3 separate regions of the Homo sapiens genome follow, and regions 1 and 2 are each linked to region 3. Evidence: fine-mapped expression QTL. A gene starts in region 3. Each other region holds a variant in brackets. All regions are shown on one strand. Distances are from middle to middle.

Region 1 (8,185 bases), 85 kb after region 3:
TGTAATAAAATTATTATTTTTTTAAAAAGATAGAGATACACTTATGATTATGATACACTTATTACACTTATGGTTATGAAATGATGGCAGTCTAATTTTATCATTTCTTCATTTATTTGTTGTAATGCTTCTAAAGATAATAAGTCTCATCTCCTTCTCTGTTTGGTTCCCAATTCATATAGGAAGATAAATTCTTTTTTTTTTAATTGGGTGGTCTTTTTGTTGGTTTTTAATTTGTTTTGTTTTGTTTTTTTGAGACAAAGTCTTACTCTGTTGCCCAGGATGGAGTGCTGTGGCGTGATCTCGACTCACTGCAACCTCCGTCTCCTGGGTTCAAGCGATTCTCCTGCCTCACCTTCCCCAGTAGCTGGGACTACAGGCACGCACCACCATGCCTGGCTTATTTTTGTATTTTTGGTAGAGACAGGGTTTTGCCATGTTCGCCAGGCTGGTCTCAAACTCCTGACCTCAAGTAATCCACCCACCTCAGCCTCCCGGAGTGCTGGGATTACAGGTGTGAGCCACAGCACCCAGCGAATAAATTCTTTCATTTACCTTTTCTTTTTTTTTTTTTTTTTTTTTTTTTTGAGACAGAGTCTCAGTCTGTCGCCCAGGCTGGAGTGCAGTAGCGCAATCTTGGCTTACTGCAACCTCTACCTCCCGGGTTCAAGTGATTCTCTTGCCTCAGCTTCCTGAGTAGCTGGGATTATAGGCGTGTGCCACCACACCTGGCTAATTTTTGTATTTTTAATAGGGACGGGGTTTCACTATGTTGGCCAGGCTGGTCTCGAACTCCTGACCTCAAATGATCCACCTCCCTCAGCCTCCCAAAGTGCTGGAATTACAGGCGTGAGCCACCACACTTGGCTATTTACCTTTTCATATCCTTTTATTTTCCCAATTCATATAGGAAAGATAAGTATTTTCCCTTTCATTTTCAAAATTGATTGGTACACTAACCTCCTCCATAGTAACTAATTTGTATTTTTTTATTATGAACTCATGAATTTAAACATTTGATGTTGTTTCAGTCCATTGCAGTCATTATCCTTATTGATTCTCAAAGTGTTTTATATTTGACAAATAAGTTCTTCAAATTAGTTAGTTATTTTGATAGTGACCTTAATAGTCTTTGCTAGCTTCCATCCCTGTATGGCATAACAAAACATTCCAGGCCCCTTTAGTACATTTCCTGTCCCAGACCTGGTATTAGTCATCTAATCTGGAAGCCCTGCTTTCTTTCTGTGGGAAACATTATTTCAAGACATTAGGGATAAGAATGCCAGTTGCTACTGAGTTGGTTATTGTTTCAAGGATTTATCAATACATAGAGTAAATAATTATGTTTTGCTTTGTCTTATTTTTATTTCTTTACTTTAGAAACAGTACAGCTACTTACAAATCAAGTTTAGAACTCTCAGGTTATCTTAAATCTGAAGCTTCTACCTTCCTAAGAACAAAACACCGGAATGATGAGATGTCATATAAATATCCATTTATTTTATTTCACAATACATACATTGACCTATTGTATGTATGATTAGTACAAATGGTTTAAATTGGCTTGTTGTGCTTTGTTTTGTTTTTGCAGTTTTTTTTTGTCATTAGATTTTATCTCACTAGAAATGTATAGTCAAATTTCTGTGTTCTAAAGTCACTTGAAGTAGTTTTTCTGTTTGTAGTAATGTTACCAGTTGGACACATTAGGTTCATTTATTTTTGGGAATTGCTTTTGTTCCCATTTAAATTTTTATTTATCTTGCGTATCTTGGATTAACGGTAATAGACCATATACAATTTTCTCTACTTTTTTTCATTTGAGAGTTTCCTCATTTATTTTGTTTTCGGATGCAAAGTATTTCATTGTATGAATTACCAGTTTGTTCAATTAGTTTTCTTTGATAACATTTGGGTTGCTTCTAGTCTTTTGTTATTACAGAGTCTTGCAATGAATAGTCTTATGCTTATATGTTTTTGTGGTTTCTGGCAAGGATTTCAACGTAATTTAAGGCTATCCTCTACTTAAGTTATGGCCAATTAAGTGTCTGATTAAATGTCTGTAATAATTTAAAAATAACAATACTTAATTTAAAAGAGCTTATAATACATAATTATTCATTAGAGAGATGCAAATCAAACCACAGTGAGATAATACTTCACACCCACTAGGATGGTTATAATTTAAAAAGATGGAAATAGCAAGTGTTGGCAAGGGTATGGAGAAGTTGAAACCTTCATACCTTGCTGGTTGGATATAGAATGGTGTAGCCACATAGGAAAAGAGTTTGGCAGATTCTCAAAGTTAAACATAGAGCTGTATACAACCTAACAATTCTGTGCATATACCCACAAAAAATGAAAACATATATCCACACAAAAACTTGCACACATATGTTCATAGCAGCATTATTCATCCAAAAAGTAGAGGTACTCAAATGACTTTCAACTGATAAACACAGATGAACAAAATGTATGTCCAAACAGTAGAATATTATTCAGCTATAAAAAAGAACAGAGTACACTTAGCAAACTAAGAATAGAAGGAACTTCCTCAATCTGATAAAGGACATCCATGAAAAACCCACCACTAATGTCATACTTAATCATGAAAAACCGAATGCTTTTCTCCTAAGATAGGAAAAAGACAAGTATGTCTACTCATGCCATCTCTATTCTACTTTGTATTGGTGCTTCTAGCCAGGGCAGTTAGACAAGAAAATGAAACAAGAGGCATCCAAATTGGAGAGAAAGGAGTTGAACTATTCCCAGATGGTATGCTCTAATATGGAGAAAATCCTAAGCAATCCACTAAAAATTGATTAGAACTAATGAACAAGTTCAGCAAGGTTACAAGATACAAGATCAATATGTAAAAATCAACCGTATATATGTATGTATATATATTTTTTTTTTTTTTTTTTTTTTTTTTTTTTTTTTTTTTTTTGAGACGGAGTCTCGCTCTGTCGCCCAGGCTGGGGTACAGCAGCACAAACACAGCTCACTGCATTCTCAACCTGGGGTCAAGCAGTCTTTCTGCCTTAGCCTCCCAAAGTGCTAGGAACTATATTTCTTTTTTTTCTTTTTTTGAGACAGAGTCTCGCTCTGTCACCCAGGCTAGAGTGCAGTGGCATGATCCTGGCTCACCGCAACCTCCACTCCCGGGTTCAAGTGATTCTCCTGCCTCAGCCTCCTGAGTAACTGGGATTACAGTCGCCCGCCACCACGCCCGGCTAATTTTTCTATTTTTAGTGGAGATGGGAGTTCACCATTTTGGCCTGGCTGGTCCTGAACTGCCCTCAAGTAATCCACCTGCCTTGGCCTCCCACAGTGCCTTGAGATTACAGGTGTGACCCACCGCACCCAGCCTAAGAACTGTATTTCTATAAACTAGCAGTGAACCATCCAAAAATGAAATTAAGGAGACAGCCCTGGTGCAGTGGCTCATGGATGTAATCCTAGCACTTTGGGAGGCTTTAAGAGGCTGAATTGCTTGAGGCCAGGAATTTAAAACCAGCCTGATCAACAGAGACTCCATCTCTACCAGAAAACGAACAAAAAAAGTTATCCAGGTGTGGTGGCATGCCCCTGTAGTCCCAGCTACTCAGGGTGCTGAGGCAGGAGGATCGCTCCAGCCCAGGAGTTTGAGGCTGCAGTGAGCTGTGATCGTACCACTATACTCCAGCCTGGGTGGCAGACAGCAAGACCCTGTCTCTGAAAACAAAAATTAAATGGAGACAGTTCCATTTACAAAAGCATCAAAAAGAATAGGAATAACTTTGACAATAGATGTGCACAATTGTATGCTGAAATCTACAAAATACTGTTCAAAGAAATTAATGAGTTCTGAGTAAAGACATTTAATGTTCATGGATTGAAAGATAATATGGCAACACAGACATGATTCACTTAAGAGCTGTATCTTATGATGTGCAAATTATATCAATACAAAAAAAAGCTTGCAGTAAATAATTACTGCAGTAAAATTTGAATTTTAAAAATATAAAGTGAGCCAAAAAAGAAAAAAACAACTTATGGTCTACTGCAGGTTTTTAATATTAAATGAGCATTTCTTTCCCATTCAAGATGAGCCACAAAAGCAGAGCCCAAGAAATTTTAGGCTTTGGGCTTAAAGTTGATTTTTTTGTTTATTGTTTTTAAATTTTATTTTGAAATAACTTTAGATTTACAGAAGTGTTGTAAAGATAGTACAGAGTTCCCATAAGCGCTTCACCCAGCTTCTTCTAATGCTGACATCTTATATAATCTTAGTACATTTATCAAAACTAAGAAATTAACAT[T/C]GGGAGCCAAGCATGGTTCACACCTGCAGTCCCAACTATTTTGGAGACTGAGGAGGGAAGACTGCTTGAGGCCAGAAGTTTGAAGTTGCAGTGTGCTGTGATCACTCCTGTGAATCACCACTGTACTCCAGCCTGGGCAACATAGTAAGTGAGACCTTGTCTCTAAAAAAGAAAGAAATTAACATTGGTACAGCGCCATTAACTAAACGATAGACTTCAGATTTTGACAGTTTTCCCACTAATAACCGTTTGTGTTCCAGGACCCAAACCCATTTTCCACATTTAGTTAGTTGTCATGTCTCCTTAGTCTTCTCCCGCCCCATGACAGTTTCTCAGCCTATATTTATTTTTCATGACATTGCCTTTGGAAAGTGCTGGCCAGGTATTTTGTAGAGTGTGTCTTCATTTGGGTTTGCTTCGTGATTTCGCATGATGAGAATGAGGTTATGGATGTTGGAGAGACCACCAGAGAGGGGATTTGTCCTTTTCTCATATATCAGTGTATTACTCATATTAACTTTAATCATTTGGTCAAGATGGAGTTTGTCAGATGTCTCCACTGTAAAGTTTTCCCTTTAAATTTATGGTTTTGTATTGCTTTGTTCTTCCTTTTTTTTTGAGACGGAGTCTCGCTCTTTCACCCAGGCTGGAGTGCAGTGGCGCGATCTCAGCTCACTGCAACCTCCGCCTCCCGGGTTCACACCATTCTCCTGCCTCAGCCTCCCGAGTAGCTGGGACTACAGGTGCCTGACACTGCACTCAGCTAATTTTTTGTATTTTTAGTAGAGACAGGGTTTCACCGTGTTAACCAGGATGGTCTCGATGTCTTGACCTCGTGATCCACCCACCTGGGCCTCCTAAAGTGCTGGGATTACAGGCGTGAGCCACTGCGCCTGCTTTTTTTTTCTTTTTTCTTTTTCTTTTTCTTTTTCTTTTTTTTTTTTTTTTTTTTTGAGATGGAGTCTCACTGTGTCGCCAGGGCTGGAGTGCAATGGTCCGATCTCGGCTCACTGTAACCTCCGCCTCCTGGGTTCAAGCGATTCTCCTGCCTCAGCCTCCTGAGTACCTGGGATTACAAGCGCCCGCCATTATGCCCAGCTGACTTTTTGTACTTTTAGTGGGGACAGGGTTTCACCATGTTGACCAGGCTGTTGTCGAACTCTGACCCCGTGATTCACCCACCTCAGCCTCCCAAAGTGCTGGGATTACAGGTGTGAGCCCCCCGTGCCTGGCCTGTTCTTTCTTCTATTTTGAAGGTCACTTGGGATGCATTTTCATGCTATTAATAAAGAAATGCTGACCCTTGTTACTGAACTCCTGCTCCCGGGACGCATTGTGACACCAACTACTTGCTGTCATATGGAAGGACAGACAAGACCATCTGTGTTTTCCCAAGCTAAGCAGAATTTTTTTTCAGGAGTGGGGTGGGCAAGTCCTGTTGACTAACTAGATTTTCGAGTTTTGATTAGGCAGCAAAATACCACCTCAGAGAAGAGGAATGGGGCAAAATTATTTCCAGAGTTTGGATGGCATATCAATCTTTTGTAGTAGGTGCTGACTTTTTTTTTTTTTTTTTGAGTGGAAGATTTTAGAGCTATCTTGGAAAATCAAAGTATATCCAATATCGATTATATAAAACTTAGTTTATTGTTGCTTCCTTCATCCTGTCCACCTGGTACTCTTTTTTTTTTTTTTTTTTTTTTTTTTTTTTTTTGAGACAGAGTCTTGCTCTGTCACCCAGGCTGGAGTGCAGTGGCATGATCACGGCTCACTGCAAGCTCCGTCTCCCAGGTTCACGCCATTCTCCTGCCTTAGCCTCCCGAGTAGCTGGGACTACAAGCACCCACCACCACGCCCGGCTAATTTTTTGTATTTTTAGTAGAGATGGGATTTCACCGTGTTAGCCAGGATGGTCTCGATCTCCTGACCTCGTGATCCACCTGCCTCGGCCTGCCAAAGTGCTGGAATTACAGGCGTGAGCCACCATGCCCAGCCCTACCTGGTGCTCTTTACACTGGAGAGTTTACCCCTAGAGAACTTCAGCACATTGACATTCCTGGTCCTTGGGCTACTTCATTTACATTTACCTACAGCTTTGATGTCAGAATCCAGGACACAATCTCACCACCTTTCTGTTACTTTCACTTCACATGTGCTAGTAAACACTGAGGATTCAGCAGAATTTAAGCACAGTGAAGTGCTCATGGGAGATGCATTGGGAGTACTGAACATTGACATTTGAGCCATTGTTCCGTGTTGCTCACACTACCATCCAATTCTTTTTCACTTCACATGCATTCAGATTTCTTCTTGAGTAGAGACCTGGAAGCCTCAGACCTCATATCTAGAAGACCTTGATTATGTTCTCTGGTGCAGCCTCAGCTTAGTCACCGATGACATGACCAGGTCTTACAGCAAATGAGCACCAACTTAGGACCCACTGTCATGTGCCTTGAACATTTTTCAAAGTTTTCAGCATTTTTCAAGATTTTAAAGTTTACTTAATTATTTTCCTCATGGTGGTCTAACTGATCACAGTAAGAAAACAAATGATCTTTTGTTTAACAACTCATGGCATGAAAAAAACATATGATCTTGATCTCTTATTACCAAACTCTCTTGCAGACTTTGGGATGTTCTTTTCTTTCTTTTTTAAGAGACAGGGTCTTTGTCATCTAGGGAGGAGAACAGTGACATGATTATAGTTCACTGCATCCTTGAACTCCTGGGCTTAAACAGTCCTCCTTCCTCTTGCTCAGCCTCTTAAGTAGCTGGGACTACAGATGCATAGCCACCATGCCCAGATAATGTTTTGTTTTTTTTTGTTTTGTTTTGTTTTTGAGACAGAGTCTCACTCTGTCACCCAGGCTGAGGTAAAGTGGTACGGTCTAGGTTCACTGCAACTTGCACTTCCCACATTCAAGCGATTCTCATGTCTTAGCCTCCTGAGTGGCTGGGACTACAGGCATGTACCACCATGCCCAGCTAATTTTTGTATTTTTAGTAGAGACAGGGTTTTGCTATGGTGGCCAGGCTGGTCTCAAACTCCTGACCTTAAGTGATCCACCTGCCTCGGCCTCCCAAAGTGCTGGGATTATAGGTGTGAGCCACTGCTCCCAGCCTGTTTTATTTTTGTAGTGATGGGGTCTTGCTTTGTTGCCCAGGCTGGTCTCAAACTCTTGGGCTTAAGTGAACCTCCTGCCTCAGTCTCCCAAAGTGCTGGGATTGCCCAGGCTGGTCTTGATCTCTTGGGCTTAAGTGATCTTCCCACTTCAGTCTCTCAAGGTGCTGTGATTACAGACACGAGCCACTTTACCCAGCCTGAAAATGTTCTTTCTTTTTTTCTTTCTTCTTTTTTTGTTTTTGAGATGTAGTCTCCCTCTGTTGCCCAGGCTGGAGTGCAGTGGCACGATCTCAGCTCACTGCAACCTCTGCTTCCTGGGTTCAAGTGATTCTCCTGCCTTACCCTCCCAAGTAGCTGGGACTACAGGCACGCACCACCATGCCCAGCTAATTTTTGTATTTTTAGTAGAGACAAGGTTTCACCATATTGGCCAGGCTGGTATCAAACTCCTGACCTTGTGATCCACCCATCTGGGCCTCCTAAAGTGCTGGGATTACAGGTGTGAGCCACTGTGCCCAGCCAGGATGTTCTTTCTAAATGATGTTACTTCTGGGCTCTTTGTAAGGGTTATTAGTCCCTTTCTGAAGATTTGTTTTGAGTAGCTTTTCATTCAGTTTTTCTTCTTGTTTTGGTTTTTCTTAGGTGAATACACGCCTACTATAAAATATCTGAACATAAGCTATAACGTGGTTGTTCAGTCACGAATTGTACCATTATTTTATAGTTACTTTTCTAATGGCATAAGTCCCATGATTTTGTTTTC
Region 2 (8,185 bases), 58 kb after region 3:
TAAAATGGAAGTTCATCGGCTTTAAGTGCAGATACCCTATGTAGCTTTTCTTTCTTTTTTTTTTTTCAGATGGAGTTTTGCTGTGTTGCCCAGGCTGGAGTGCAGTGGCACAATCTCAGCTCAGTGCAACCTCCACCTCCTGAGTTCAAGCGATTTTCCTGCCTCAGCTTCCTAAGTAGCTGGGACTACAAATGAGTACCTGCACGCCTGTCTAATTTTTGTATTTTTAGTAGAGACAGGGTTCCACCATGTTGCCCAGGCTGGTCTCAAACTCCTGGGCTCAAGTGATATGCCCATCTCGGCCTCCCAAAGTGCTTAGATTACAGGCATGAGCCACTACGCCCAGCAATCCCTTTACCTTTAAAAAAATAAATAAATAAACCTTTAATTTTAAGAGGTTGTATACTCATGTGTAGTCATATAAACTAGTGCAGAGATTCCTTGTTCCTTTGACCCAGTTTCCCCCTATGGTACCATCTTATAATATTACAACTGGGATATTTACATTGACAGATATAGTCAAGATACAGAACATTTTCATATCTGCTAAGATTCCTCATGTTCTCTATAGCTACATACACTTTCCTCCTGCCCTCACCCCCTCCTTAACCTCTGGTAATCACTAATCTAGAGATTTCCTTTTTGGGAGTTTTTAAATGACAAATTGTTTCCTTAATAGTTACAGGGCTCTTTCATATTGAGTGTCTTGTGGTTTGTCTTTTTTGAGGAATTAGTCTATGTTGCCAAATTTATTTGGGTAGAATTCTGCATAATATTCTCTTATCCTTTTGATACTTGTAGTGATATCCCATTTCATTACCTCCGATATTGGTAATTTGTGCCTTCTCTCTCTCTCTCTTTTTTTTTTGGTCAGTCTTGCTAGACGTTTGTCGATTTTATTGATCTGTTCAAAGAACCAGCTCTGTTTCATTGATCTTTCCCTTTATGTTTTCAATTTCATTTACTTCTATAATTATTTCCTTGCTTCTGCTTGGTTTGCCTATATATTGCTCTTTTTTTTTACTAGATTCTTGAAGTTGGAGCTTAGATTATTGATTTGAGACTTTTCCTCTTTACACTGTATGTATTTCTTACTACACATTTCCCTCACACTGCTTTAGCTATATTCAACAATTTTTGATACATGTATGATTTTATTCCGTTCATTATTTTTTTAATTCCCTTGAGACTTTCTTTTTGACCCATGCATTATTTAGAAGTGTATTGTTCCATTTCCAAGTTTTCAGAGAGTTTTCTGTTGTCTTTCTGTTGTTGCTTTCTAGTTTGATCATGTTGCTGGTGAACACATTCTTTGTGATTTCAACTCTTTTAAATTTGTTGATATTAATTTTATGGGCCAGGATGTGGTCTGTCTTGTATATTCTGTGGACACTTGGAAAGACCAGTATCTTTGTTTTTACCCCAATATCTTTTAAATAAATTCCTTTTTTGTCGGCCAGTCAGTGTCTGTGTCTTGCACTAAACTCTAACTACTACCCCTTTGCAACTGCATTTGTTTAATAGCCTTTATTGTAGCACTAACTATCCCATACTCCCTCATCGTCAGTTTTACACCTTAGTCTCCATCACTACGCTGTGAGCTTGAAGGCGTAGATTTTGTCTTTTTTGTATGTGTCCAGCCTGGTACGTGGCAAATAATTTATAGTATTTGATTAAGGAGTAAATGAATAGCTTTTATTAATGATCACCATTTTTTAAAACTTTGATCTGTGGAAATTTAGTTCTTATCCTTTTAGTTTTGCATATTTTGTCAGTTTTCATCTTAAAAGCAGGGTGGTTTTGGTTTCATAGCTTGTGTTCAGCAAGTAGCTGACCCCAAAAACAGACTGTAAATGTCTGTTATATGATTGGAATGACATTTTATTTCAGCTTAATCATGCCATAGTTCAAGCAGAGACGTGAGATGCTCCTTACTCATTCCACAAGACCTATTTTGCAATTCCTGCTATTTCCTTTATTTCAGGTTGACTTGTCCTCTAGTTGTAGAAGTGTTGTTTCCATAGCAATGCAGCTTACAACGCACATCCCTGTCAGAGTGCACAGAAACCCTGCTGTGTTGCCTGGAAGCCTTGTTTTCCAGTCAGAAAGGAAGCACATGGTATTCCCTCAGCCTTTCCTGCACTTAACTTTGGCTTGCCTTGTGGATAACAAGAAACTCTTGGTTGTTTTCTACCATAGATGCTGGGTTAAAATGTATCTAAGGGATTTTGATGTATAATGTGCCCTGTTACTACAGTGTTCAGGCTGTGGCTGGTGACTGCTAGCGAAGTTGCTGCGTGAAATAGATGTAGGGGACGTTACAGGAATGTGAGCTAAACAGTCTGCCACTCAGCATGAAATTCTATTTATTGCTAAAGCAGTTTGGGGCAACTGCATGTTTGTTGCTTTGGATGATTTTCTTTTGGTTTTTACTGCCTATGAGAACACAATAGAACTGAGTGAACCTCGAGAAGTGGAGAAGCAAACTGTTGGCCTTTCTGAGTGGTTTCCCTGACCTTCAACTAGGAGCATATTTAGTGACTTCATGTTTTTCTTCCTTTGGAACTAAATTGACTAGATTGTACTTGAACACAAGGAGTCTTTTTCATATCTTCTCTCACATTTAGTTTCTTCTTTGCCACCTTTTTCTTTTCTTTATTTCTTTTGTTACTTCAGCTGGAAAGCTTGTTATATGGACATTCATTGGAAATATTCAAGAAAGAGTTGAGTTATAAATAGAGCAGGATTTCAGAGAGACAAGGATATCATCTTAATTGTGATTGGTCAATAAATTGAAGAGATTTGTGTGGACTCACACCAATATAGTGGTAGAAGAATGATGGAGAGCATTTTAATGATAATTATACTCCACACTTCAATATTTTCTCAGTCTTCATGTATTCATCTATTCATCATGTATCAAACAGCATTCATTAAGTACTGCTTTTTGGTTCCCATAGCATTTGACTTTTATGGCAGGAGGTAGGTTCATTATCACAGGGGCCTTAAGTGTTCAATTTAATGAGTTTTCACAATTGAATACATCCATATAACTGATACAGGGCACAGCCAAGCCCCCAGTTGGGGCTTAGCCCTGGAGGGTCTTGGCTTTGCTCAGGAAGTAATTCAAGAGCTAGCTGGTGGTAGAAGAAAACAGCTTTATTGAAGCGGCAGTGTTAACAGCTCCTTGACTGCTCCTGCAGAGCAGGGTTACCGCATAGGCATTGTGCTGAGAGTAGCAGCTCAGGGCAGTTCTGCAGTCATATTTATATCTACTTTTAATTACATGCAGATTAAGGGGCAGTTTATGCAGAAATTTCTAGGAAAAGGGTAATAACTTCTGGATCGTCAGGTCATTGCTCTGGGAAGGGGCGGTAACTCTCAGGTGTTGTCATACCAATGGTAAACTGACATAGCACACTGGTGGGTGTGTCTTACAGAAAGCCGCTTCTGCCCCATACCTGTTTTAGCTAGTCATCAATTTGGTTTGGTATCCAAGCCCTGCCTCTGGAATCCTGTCCTGCCTACTACTTCATAGCCACTATCCAAGATAAGGTATAGTATGATTCCGTCACTCCAGAAAGTTCCCTCATGCCCCTTTCCAGTTGCTTTTGCCCTATGCTCTTTGCCCCAGGCAACTACTGATTTTTATCATGATAGATTAGTTTTGCTTTTCCAGAACGTCATGGAAATCAAAGCATACATTTTTTAAATTTTTGTGCCTGGATTCTTTTACCTACAGTGAAAGAACATGTATTTGAGACTTATCATGTTGCTGTGTATATCAGTGGTTCATTGCTTTTTATAAATTGTTCATATATACCACAGTTTATCCATCTATCCTGCTGATAAACGTATGGGTTATTTCCAAATCTTTTTGAAGACATATGTTTTTATTTATCTTGGGTACCTAAATACCTAGGAATGGAATTGCTAGGTCATGGAGTAGATGTGTGCTTAATGTTTTTGTTTTGGTTTTGATTTGGTTTTTCTGAGACAGGGTCTTGCTCTGTCACTCAGGCTGGAATGCAATGGCATAATCACAGCTCACTGCAGCCTTGAACTCTGTGGCTCAAGAGATCTTCCCACCTCAGCCTCTCGAGTAGCTGGGACTACAGGTGCACACCACTATGTCTGGCTAATTTTTAATTTTTTTGTAGAGATGGGGTCTCCCCATGTTGCAGGCTGGTCTCAAACTCCTAGGCTCAAGCAGTCCTCCTGCTGCAGCCTCCCAAACTGCAAGGATTATAGGCATGAGCCACAACGCTCAGTCTTAATGTTATAAGAAACTGCCAAACAGTTCCTCAAGATGGTTGTACCATTTTATATTTTGCCAGTGATGTATGAGGGTTCTACTTGGTCCATACGTATCCTTGTTCACATGTGATGTTGTCAGTCTTTTTTTTTTTTTTTGAGATGGAGTCTCGCTCTGTCGCCCAGGCTGGAGCACAGTGGCATGATCTCAGCTCACTGCAACCTCCACCTCTGGGGTTTAAACGATTCTCCTGTCTCAGCCTTGGAGTAGCTGGGACTACAGGTGGATGCCACCACACCTGGCTAATTTTTGTATTTTTTGTGGAGATGGGGTTTCATCATATTAGTCAGAGTGGTCTTGAACTCCTGACCTGAGGTGATCCACCCGCCTCGGCCTCCCAAAGTGCTGGGATTACAGGCATGAGCCACCGCGCCCAGCCTTGTCAGTCTTTTTTATTTGGGTAAGTGTGAAATGGTATCTCCTCTGATTTTAGTTTGCATTGCTCTGAAAACTAATAATAATGACATCTTTTCATGTGTAAAGTGACTCTTCCAATCTTACCCATTTTTATTGGGTTGTTTTATTCTGTTATTGGTTTATAGGAGTTCTTC[T/A]TATATTCTGAATATAGATAGTTTGTCAGATGTAAATGCTAAGAATTTTTCTTAGTGTTTGTCTTGCTTATTCATTTTTTTGGTGGTGTGTTTAGATGAGCAGAGTTTTTAATTTTGATATTCAGTTCGTCTTTTACAGTTAGTGCTTTTTGTGTCCTAAGAAATCTGCCTATAAGGTTGAGAAGATTTTGCCTTTTTTTAATGGTCCTGGCTTTTATGTTTAGGTTTTTTTTGTACCTTGAATTAATTTTCATATATGGACACATTTAGGTTTTTTTTTTAGAAACATAGAAGCAATATATGCGTGTTCTTCTAAAAATTCAAGCAACACAGAGATATAGAAGACAAAATGAAAGTTAATAATTTGGTGGGGTTTTTGTAAGGTCTCCACTGTTCAGTAGAGTAGTCACTAGCTATATGTGGCTGTTGAACACTTGAAATGCCACCAGTCTGAATTGAGATGTGCTATAGGTATAAATACACACTAAATTTTGAAGAATTAGTAAGAAAAAATAAGCAGTCAATTTTTATTTCAGTTCCATTGTTGAAACAGTAACATTTCTGACATATTGGGTTAAATGTATTAAAAACAATTTCAGTTGTTTCTTTTTATATTTAATAGGGCTAAAATATGTTTTTAAACTAGGTATGTGGTTCCCATTTTATTTCTGTGTGTTTTTTTTTTAAGAGATGGGGTCTCACTATGTTGCCCAGGCTGGTCTCAAACTCCGGGGATCAACTGATCCTCCCTTCTCAGCCTCCCAAAGTGCTGGGACTACAGGTGTGAGCCACTATGCCCCGCCCATTTTATTTCTATTTGACAGCTCTGTCCTAGACCTTTCCCTAAGCATTTAGTAATCTATGTATATGAATGTGTATCTGTATGAGATACTTTTCTGTTCACATATAAGTGTTTTTTATTTATATAAATGGAGTAATCTAAGCCTATTTTCCTGAAGTTTGTATTTTTTGCTTGAAAATACAAAAATACATATACTAACATATTTCATCTTATTGCCTATACATTTATCTGATTCTTGTTAATGGCTAGTATAGTGTTCTACTTTGAATATTCTATAATTTATTTTATTTTATTTTATTTTGAGACAGTCTCGGGAGTGCAGTGGCGCGATCTCGGTTCATTGCAACCTCCACCTCCAGGGTTCAAGTGATTCTCATGTCTCAGCCTCCCAAGTAGCTGGGACTATAGGCACCCACCACCACGCCTGGCTGATGTTTGTATTTTTAGTAGAGATGGGATTTCGTCATGTTGGCCAGGCTTGTCTTGAACTCCTTACCTCAGGTGATCCACCTGGTTTGGCCTCCCAAAGTGCTGGGATTACAGGTGTGAGCCACCGTGCCTGGCCAGTTCTATAATTTTCAAAACTAACTCCCTATACAGACATTTAGGTTTTTTATCATTTTCTTTCTGAGAAACAGTATGTTTGTAAAGATTGCCTCATGTTTAGAAAGATGATACAATTCCTACCAGAATTTTTTTCTCAAATGGAAATGCTTATTACAATTAGGATTAGTAAATTGTGTAGAGGAAGTCAAGGCTTCCCTTGTAAAGGACAAAATGGCTTCGTATCTAGAGCAGAATACAGTCTTGTAGCCAGGAGTTTCAGACCAGCCAGGGCAACATAGGGAGACCCCGTTCATACCAAAATAAATAAATAAAAATAAAAAGAATACAGTCTTTAGGGAAGCAAACCCTTTGAATACAGTGTGTATCTCTAGCTGAAATTCAAACTGTGCCTCTCTTTTGTTCATGATTAGTTACACAGTGAGTTTAGGTAGAATGGGGGGTGGGCAGGGGTCACAGAGAAAAAGAATCCAGCGTTGTGTATCTTATCTTAGCGACATTTATATTACCCACCATGTGAAAGTTCTTTTGAGAAGCTTCCCTCTCCTCCAGTTATTTTCTTTTTTAGTACAAAACAACCTTTTTAATATTTATAAAACTTGGTATAAGGCCAGTCATTTTGTGGGAAGAAAGTCCAATACGATAATGAATCTATGAGCATTAGCAAGAATGAATGAGATGAGATTATTTAAATATACTTTGGCTAATTTAACATCTGTGTGTGTAAGTGTTGAAATGGGTCACCATGTTATTTCCAAAAACGTGGCTTGGGAATTATGCCTTCTTTTCACTTAGCACATGTAACTGGATAAACCGAGACTTAAGTAGCTTTTAGGGGAAGGAGGGAAAGTAGACAGATGGGAGTAGCTGCTCCAGCATAGGTGTGTCAAGCAAATTGTCACCCTTTTATCTCTGGGCCAGAGTTGTTTCAGTTCCTGCATCAGGAATCAAGTGTATGATCTGCTTCCATGCCGGGGAACTCCTTTAAAACAACAAGATGTTGAATTTTTTTCTTTTACAGTTGATAAAGTTAATTTCCCTTTTCAGTTAGCAGTTTGCCTTTAGAATTTTGGAACTAAAATATTCCTTGCTAAGGCTTTTATTTTCTCCTCCCTCACATGTACTCTGGGTTATTTAGGATTTAAATTAGACATTTAAAGGGTATGTATTTGTGTGTGCGTGCATTTTCTTTTAACTGTGAGTGACAGCAATACCAGGAGAAAAGTTAATACTCCATCTTGCCAAAAGATGATGGTTTTATTTTTCTCTCATGAAACAAAACCTGGGAGGAAGAGTTGAATGAACTTTGCAAACAGTTGAGCAAGTAGATTGGCTTCCAGACTAAACCCTGGATTGAGGTACAGCTAGAATAACTCACTTAGGTTTTCTGTTTATTCTTTCAGGAAGAAGAAATTTGATGCCTAGAGATTGATCTGCTTTTTGTTTTTAAGTTCTAGTTCTGGTTCGATTTCAGAACCAGTCTGCAGGCAACTCTGCATTGTCTCCTTAGAGAACTGGACAATTCCACTGATCTGGATCCTTTGGCAGCAAGCTGACATTTTATTGAGGCTGGTCAGCACTCCTGGCCAGAGTCTTGAAATTGTGGGTGTGTTTTTGCTGCCCATTGTTGAGTTATTCATGAACAGATATGAAAACCATATATATCCGAATTTTGTTACCACTAGATGTGATGAGTTTTTCTTTTTGATTATTTGGGGATTCTTAGTTCTCTGTCAAACTCTTCAGATTAAAACCCTTCTTATAGCTATTACTTTGGACTTCTTATATTTTACAGTATAGGGAAGAGAAAGCTGTCATGGTTATTGCTGGCTCCTTTTTTAGAAATAGGTAGAGTATTATATATGCTTTTGACTTGAACAGGATTGCCTGGTGCAAATAATAGTTTTACTTAATTCTTTTAGCTGTAAAATAGGGATCATAATTCCTACTTCA
Region 3 (8,185 bases):
TTTGTAGAGATGGGGTTTCACTATGTTAGCCAGGCTGGTCTTGAACTCCTGACCTCAGGTAGTCCACCTCCCTCAGCCTCCTAAAGTGCTGGGATTACAGGCGTGAGCCACTACGCCTGGCCTGAGTTGTGCACTTAAATGGGTACATTTTATGGTGTGTGAATTGTGTCTCAATAAGGCTTTTTTTTTTTTTTTTTTTTGAGACGGAGTCTCCCTCTGCCACCCAGGCCGGAGTGCAGTGGCGCGATCTCGGCTCACTGCAAGCTCCGCCTCCCAGGTTCATGCCATTCTCCGGCCTCAGCCTCCCGAGTAGCTGGGACTACAGGCGCCTGCCACCACGCCCGGCTAATTTTTTATATTTTTTAGTACAGACGGGGTTTCACCGTGTTAGCCAGGATGGTCTCGATCTCCTGACCTTGTGATCCGCCTGCCTCAGCCTCCCAATCAATAAGGCTATTTTTAAAAGTTTGCTGGTATAGAGCCATTGCAATGTCTTATTAATCACATGCATGTCTCATCTATTCCTTGATTCACAAAAGATTTATTTCTTGATTTCCTGGATTTACAGACCCAGTCTAGTCCAGAGTGTCAATGAGGAGCAATTTCAGCTGACAAAAACTCATATTTGTATACAAGATAAACAAATAGTTGCCGGGCACGGTGGCTCACGCCTGTAATCCCAACATTTTGGGAGGTCGAGGCAGGCGGATTGCCTGAGGTCAAGAGTTTGAGACCAGTCTAGCTAACATGGTGAAACCCCGTCTCTACTAAAAATACAAAAAAAAAAAATAGCCGGGCGTGGTGGCGTGCGCCTGTAATCCCAGCTACTTGGGAGGCTGAGGCAGGGGAATTGCTTGAACCAGGGAGGTGGGGGTTGCATTGAGCCGAGATCGCGCCACTGCACTCCAGCCTGGGCGACAGAGAGAGACTCCATCTCAAAAACAAACAAAACCAAATAGTGTGGTAGTCATTGGTGTCTCTTCTGAATTTGCTTCTGATTGTTACCTCATAAATAGATCATTAAAATGTTTTAATCTGAAGAAATGGTAAAGATTATATATGGTTGTACTTCCATATGGTTTAACTTGAAGGGTTCCTGTGGATGATGGCTGCATTCCTGAATAGTCAATTCTTTGTATTCACAGTAGTTATGGCTATAAAGTTGTCGAGAACATTGAATTAGCAAAAACCGAACCATGGGTCCTGGGAGAAATACAGGGTTAGGTTCCTGTGAACCTCTGGTCAACACTTTTGTCAACTGATCGGTATGTAACTTTGTTTTATGTGTGTTTCTGTTCAAAGACACCTTATTTAATATGTATTTCTTAAAAATAATCTGCAGTATTTACAATAAAATTTCAATGACAGTAGTTTGGTGTAATGTACTCTAGTGTACTGAGATTGCACTACTTTTTTTTTTTGAGTCAGTCTTGCCCTTTTGTCTAGGCTGGAGTGCAATGGCATGGTCTTGGCTCACTGCCACCTCCGACCCCCAGGTTCAAACGATTTTCCTGTTTCAGCCTCCTGAGTAGCTGGGATTACAGGCGCCCACCACCACACCCAGCTAATTTTTCTATTTTTAGTAGAGACAGGGTTTCACCATGTTGGCCAGGATGGTCTTGAACTCCTGACCTTGTGATCCGCCCACCTCAGCCTCCCAAAGTGCTGGGATTACAAGTGTGAGCCACCGCGTCCAGCCTGTACAACCTTTTCATTGGCACACACAGAGTACACACATATAGTTCCCATATACAGTCAACAGTATAACATACTGTACAGTTCCCACAGTAAACACATACACTACTTTGCACACATACTGTATACCCTACAGTACAGCAATACAAATAAAGGGAAAAAGTTCAAAGATGGAGCATCCTAAGTTTTATAAAAATATCAACTAAAATCTTACGGTTGATGGAGCTGCACAATGTGGTTAAACCTCTCGACCTTGGCTTGCCCCACAGAAACCAGGGGAGGGGTGAGTGAAATTTATTCTGCAGAAGAGGAAGAGGGTGGCAGGTCAACCTCTGGCATTTCTACCTTAGGAGTCTGGCTCTTGACACTTGTTGAAGGAGTGGGCAATCTTCCCTCCCAAACTGGCTTGAGAAATTGCATTAGCCTTGCCTGCCTGGCTTTTCTGCCTGAAATCTTTAAGCATCTCGGTATAAGGGGCAAACGCAGTGGAGGCCAGCCATTTAAATTTGAGGCTTCGATCAAGCGTAGGGTCACACTCTTCCATGTCGCTAAAAATTTTTTCCAAGGCAGAACTCCATTCTGATATTTTGGCGCTGTGAGAGGGACAATTCTGGAAGTCTTGGGCCGACTTTCATGGCCATCAACTCCAATGCCTTCTTTTGCCATCTCATCCAGGTCTTCGTTGGTTGGTTCCACTGCCTTCTCTGCCAAAATGTACTCCACATCTCCTTCCTTCACGTCATCAAAGCCCTCTCCACTTACCTGCTGTGCCATATGCATTATGTCTCTGACAGTGTTCTTTATATTTTCTGTAACACCTTCAAACCCTTCAAAATTCTCCACGCAGTCTGGCCAAACATTTTCCCAACAGTTATTGGTAGTAGCCTGACCAATGCTCTCCCAGGCTGTACTGACATAATCAATAACGTTGCATGTAGTGACCGACTTCCAATAGTCCAGCATGGTGGTTTCCTTGTTGGTCCTGAGAGCCTCACAGGCCTTCATATAAAGCTCCCTTGTGTAGTGTGCCTTGAATGCTTTTATTATGCCCCGATTGAGGGGTTGGATGAGAGACTTAGTGTTTGGGGGCATAAAAAGAACTCCTATGTTGGCGTGTGCATTTTCGAGTTCTTTGCAGCAATGGATTGTAGCATTATCCAAAATTAACAAAACCTTGAAGGTGCCCGGCGCGGTGGCTCACGCCTGTAATCCCAACACTTTGGGAGGCCGAGGCAGGCGGATCATGAGGTCAGGAGATCAAGACCATCCTGGCTAACACGGTGAAACCCCGTCTCTACTGAAAATACAAAAAATTATCCAGGCGTGGTAGTGGACGCCTGTAGTCCCAGCTACTCGGGAGGCTGAGGCAGGAGAATGACGTGAACCCGGGAGGCGGAGCTTGCAGTGAGCCGAGATTGCGCCACTGCACTCCAGCCTGGGCGACAGAGCGAGACTCCGTTTCAAAACCAAACCAAAACAAAACAAACCCAAACAAACAAAAAACAAAACAAAACAAAACAAAAAACCCTTGAAGGCAAGGTTTCTGCCCTGGAGACAGTGTTCAGCTTCTGGGATGAAGCAGTTGTGGAACCAATCAGACATCATCCACACTTTTTTGTTCCACCTCCAATAGACTGGCAGATGGTTCACGTATTTCCCGTTAAGTGCTTGTGGATTTTGGGTTCTTTACACCATTAGGAGTTTGCACTTTAGTCGCTCTTGGCATTGGCGCACAATAACAAGGGTGCATGATCCTGGCATGATTTAAAGCCAGGGGCTTTGGAGGCCGTTTGCATTATATAGGTTCGTTTGCCAACATCCTTGTAAAATAAGCCAGTCTCATCCGCATTGAAAACCTGCTCTTTCACATAACCCTTTTCCTGTATAACACTTAGCAAGTATTTTTAAAATTCTTCCGCAGCCTCCTGATCTGCAGAGCTCGCCTCACCTGCAAGTTTAACATTTTTCACCCCGTATCGCCTTTTGAAACGCGCGAGCCGGCCAGCACTCGCCGAGAAGGGCTTAGCATTTCTTTGACTCTGGGTAACGTGACCACAGATATCTTTGGCTTTCAGCCTCACCACAATGCTGTCCACTATGTTTTTTTTAATCGATTGACATCTCATGAATCCACAAATTTAGCCGCTTTTCCATCTTTTCCATCTTTGTCATAGCTTCATCACGCACGATGGAGGTCACTTCAGCACTATCCGGAGCGGCCTCACGGACAGATCGGTGAATTTCCTTTTCCTTTTTCTTGATGTACCGGATTGTCGACTCGTTAACATTGAGCTCATGGCCAACAGCACTGTAACTCATGCCTGATTGGAGCTTATCCAACACGCGGACTTTCTCCGTAAGGCACATCACGGTCTTCTTTCGCTTAGGAACACTGGGCAGAGCTTAAGCACTACGCTTGGGGGCCATTTTAGAAAGCAAAACCACCCACAAAAAGCAGAAAAAAAAGTGTCAGTAAACAGACTGCGGAAAGGACTCTTTGTTTACAGCACAGGAGCTGCGACTAGAAGGCGGCGCTTCTCCCAGTTCAAACTTCAGCTGGGAACCTTACCTCCGCCAACTCCAAATTTTCACCCTCTGCGCATGCCCGGGAAGAACCCCAGACAGTACCGTGATGATTGATTTTAGGGTTACAAATACATTTTAGCAAGTAAGTGAATTTGGCATTACGAATTAATGATTAATGAAGGTCACCTGTATTTCCATAGATATGTAATTTTATTTAAGCAGGTTTATTATATTAAGGCGGCGAGGCAGCGCCGAAGACTACAAGTTCCAGCATGCACCGCGTCCGGGCGGGTTCGGGCTCCCAGCGAGGGCTTCAGGGACGCCAGCCCGGAGGCATCGGCCGGAAGTGTCGTAGGGCAACCACGTAGTACTCTCTGCGCATGTGCAAAGCGCTGTCGGGGGCCGCCCTAGCTGCCGTCGCCGCCGCCGGGGCTCTATGGTCTCTCCCTAGAGCTTTGCCGTTGGAGGCGGCTGCTGCGGTCTTGTGAGTTTGACCAGCGTCGAGCGGCAGCAACATGGAGGAATTCGACTCCGAAGACTTCTCTACGTCGGAGGAGGACGAGGACTACGTGCCGTCGGGTGAGCGATTCCGCCTGAGGCGAGAAGCGAATTGCCCCGCCCCACGCCTCACGTGAGGCGCGCTCTGCCCCCGCGGGCGTCTGCCCTGTGGCCCAGGTGGTCCAGGGGGGCTCCTGTTCTCGAGCGTCCGCTCCCTCAGGCCCCTCATCCTCGGCCGCTCCGGCCCGAGGCGTGTGCGCGTGGCGGTTCTGTGCTCCCCTCCCGTTGGGCAGCTCCGGCCGCCGCCCCCTCTTGCAGCGCGGGAACCGGCACATGGACACGGCCCCTTGTCGCTAGGGACGCTCGTCGGTCAGCCCCGAACGACACCGCTGCTTCAGAAGTCGGGGCGGCAGTCCGAGCCTTGGAGGTTTTTTTCAGCCCTGGCCCGAGAGAGCTGCTGGCCACCACCCCGTCCAAGATAGAGCTGTCCGCTCTCCGCCTGGTTGTTAGAAAGTTCTGATAGAAAGTTCCCCCTTTGATGCTTTTTGCCTCATTGTGACGTCCACCCATCCTCTCCTCTCAGAACTTTCTTTCCTTAGGGATCTCAACCCGAACGGGGTGAGAATGAATCTTACTGAAGAAATCTTTCTGTTCCCCCTTCTTGGTCTTCCCCAGACAAACCGTCTCGTTGAAAGTATCTTCACCCATTCACATCTTCAGTTGAAAGACTAGACAAACAAGAAACAAACAGACTAACAAAACACAACCCAGGAGTCGTCCCTATTCTCTTTGTTTTACTTTGTTCTGTTCTGTTTTATTTAAAGACAGGGTCTTGCTGTTGTCTAGGCTGGAGTGCAGTGATGCGATCTTGGCTCACTGCAACCTCAGACTCCTGGGCTCAAGCGATCCTCCCGTCTCAGCCTCTGGAGTAGCTGGGACTGCAGGTGCAGGCTGCCACGCCCGCTAATTTTTTAAATTTTTTTTTTTTTTTTTTTTTTTAGAAATGGCATCTTGCTATGTTGCCCAGGCTGGTCTCGAACTCGTGGGCTCAAGTGATCCTCCCACCTCAGCCACCCAAAGTGCTGGGATTACAGGCATGAGCCACCGCGCCCCGGCTAGTGAAGTATTTCTAAAAGGCACGTTGAAAACTAGCCATTCCATTCCTGGCGCGGTGGCTCATGCTTGTAATCCCAACACTTTGGGAGGCTGAGGTGGGTGGATCACAAGGTCTGGAGATCGAGACCATCCTGGACAACATGGTAAAACCCCGTCTGTACTAAAAACACAAAAATTAGCTGGGCATGGTGGCACGCGCCTGTAGTCCCAGCTCCTCAGGAGGCTGGAGCAGGAGAATCGCTTGAACTCGGGAGGTGGAGGTTGCAGTGAGCCGAGATCACACCACTGCACTCCAGCCTGGGTGACAGAGCGAGACTCCGTCTCAAAAAAAAAAAAAAAAAAGTTAGCCAGTCCCATCACCCTCATCCCTATTTTATTTAATATTCCTCAGGAGAAACTTCTTTCCACCTTTTGAATTTGGTATTATATTTCTGTTGTCTATTGATTTAACCCATGTATAGTAGGTATCATTTTTAGTAGCCCCTGACCTCCTTCCCCTCATCCCAAACACACACACAAACACTTCCACCTTCGGGGCCTCCCCAACTCCGTAGTCTGCCGTTGAACCTGTGTCCAGTTTTAGTTAGATCAGTATTCAGTGTTTTTTTTTCTTTCGAGACAGTGTCTCGCTCTGTGGCTCAGGCTGGAGTGCAGTGGCACAGTCTCTGCTTAATGCGGCCTCTGCCTTCCCGGTTCAAGCAGTTCTGCCTCAGCCTCCTAAGTAGGTGGGATTACAGGCGCCCGCCAGCACACCCGATCGATTTTCTTTTCTTTTCTTTTTTTTTTTTTTTTTTTTTTTGAGACAAGAGTTTTGCTCTGTCTCCCAGGCTGGAGTGCAGTAGCGGGATCTCGTCTCACTGCAAGCTCTGCCTCCCGGGTTCACGCCATTCTCTTGCCTCAGCCTCCTGAGTAGCTGGGACTACAGGTCCCCGCCAGCACACCCGAATGATTTTTTTGTATTTTTAGTAGAGACGAAGTTACACCATGTTGGCCAGGCTTGTTTCAAACTCCTGACCTCAAATGGTCTGCCCGCCTCGGCCTCCCTGAGTGCTGGGATTACAGGCGTGAGCCACCGTGCCAGGCCCAGTGTTTTTTTTTTCTAATGACAGTGTGAATAAACATCATGTTGACAGCTGAACCGTATGTTATACAGATTACTTTTCCTGCACTTCTTGTTTTCTCTGGTGCTAATAATTGCCATTTTTTGTTGCTACTTAGCTGTCTATGTACTTAACTGCTGTAAACCAAAAATAAAATTCTAAGGCGCCCCCAACCATCTGAATGGACTTCCTCCTTAGCCAGGGCTCTTTAACATTTAACCTGAGAGACTGTTTTGGGCCATGATGGGAAGTGGGGGCTGAACCTGCCTCATTGTATGTCTCTGACATTAACATCGATGCAGACTTTAAGTCTGATAATAAACATTTTGCAACCTATTCTCTCTGAAGCCTGTCTGCTAAAAGCTTCATCTGTATGATAAAACTGTGTTCTCAGCCGAGCAGTGGCTCGAGCCTATAATCCTATCACTTAGGGAGGCAGAGGCTGGTGGATCATTTGAGGTCAGGAGTTCAAGACCAGCCTGGCCAACGTGGTGTAACCCCATCTCTACTGAAAATATGAAAATTAGCCAAGTGTGGTGACGGGCGCCTGTAATCCTATCTACTGGGGAGGCTGAGGCACGAGATCTCTTGAACCCAAGAGGTGGGGGTTGCAGTGAGTGAAGATCATGCTTCTGCACTCCAGCCTGGGTAACAGAGCAAGACTCCATTTAAAAAAAAAAAGTGGCCAGGTGCGGTGGCTCACACCTTTAATCCCAGCACTTTGGGAGGCTGTGGTGGGCGGATTGCCTGAGGTCAGGAGTTGGAGACCAGTCTGGCCAACATAGTGAAACCCTGTCTGTACTAAAGATATAAAAAAATAGCTGGGTGTGGTGGCGTGTGCCTGTAATCCCAGCTACTCCGGAGGCTGGGGCAGGGGAATTGCTTGAACCAGGGGCGTGGGGTTGCAGTGAGCTGAGGTTGCGCCACTGCACTCCAGCCTGGGCAACAGAGTGAGACTCCATCTCGAAAAAACAAACAAACAAACAAAAAAAACCTCTGGTCTCCACAACCTCTATCTTAACCCAGACATTCCTTTCTGTTTAGGCAAACTCAACCTGTTGCCAACAAGAAAATTTTTAAATTTACCTGTAGCCTGGAAGCACTCCCACCCCGAGTTGTCCTGTCTTAATGGACCAAACCAGTATATTTCTCAAATGTATTTGATTGATGTCTCATGCCTCCCTAAAATATATAAAACCAAGCTGCACCCCAACCACCTTGGGCGCGTGCTCTCAGGACCTCTTGAGGGC

The links. PIP is the estimated chance that this variant, and not a neighbour inherited with it, causes the effect.
Region 1: its variant is fine-mapped to the expression of CFDP1 in blood mononuclear cells (TOPMed, PIP above 0.99). The same link has a PIP of 0.9 or more in monocytes and monocytes after LPS.
Region 2: its variant is fine-mapped to the expression of CFDP1 in whole blood (INTERVAL, PIP 0.99).

Annotation. Positions count from the first base shown.
Region 1 is chr16:75,344,410-75,352,594 of GRCh38, reverse strand. All of the region lies in intron 5 of CFDP1 (craniofacial development protein 1), which reads left to right. Among named protein-coding and RNA genes, the nearest start is that of CFDP1, 85 kb to the left of the region's middle. The variant T/C (reference allele first, on the strand shown) is at 4,299.
Region 2 is chr16:75,372,019-75,380,203 of GRCh38, reverse strand. All of the region lies in intron 5 of CFDP1 (craniofacial development protein 1), which reads left to right. Among named protein-coding and RNA genes, the nearest start is that of CFDP1, 57 kb to the left of the region's middle. RefSeq lists an enhancer at 3,100-3,597. The variant T/A (reference allele first, on the strand shown) is at 4,867.
Region 3 is chr16:75,429,904-75,438,088 of GRCh38, reverse strand. CFDP1 (craniofacial development protein 1) reads left to right here and starts at 4,586. Exons shown (of 7, transcript NM_006324.3): 1 at 4,586-4,800. The coding sequence starts at 4,737. It overlaps LOC124903723 (tigger transposable element-derived protein 1-like), which reads right to left and starts at 2,885. Exons shown (of 1, transcript XM_047435019.1): 1 at 1,869-2,885. The coding sequence starts at 2,787. The coding sequence ends at 1,990. RefSeq lists enhancers at 3,980-4,547, 4,091-4,600 and silencers at 4,911-5,150, 6,407-6,606.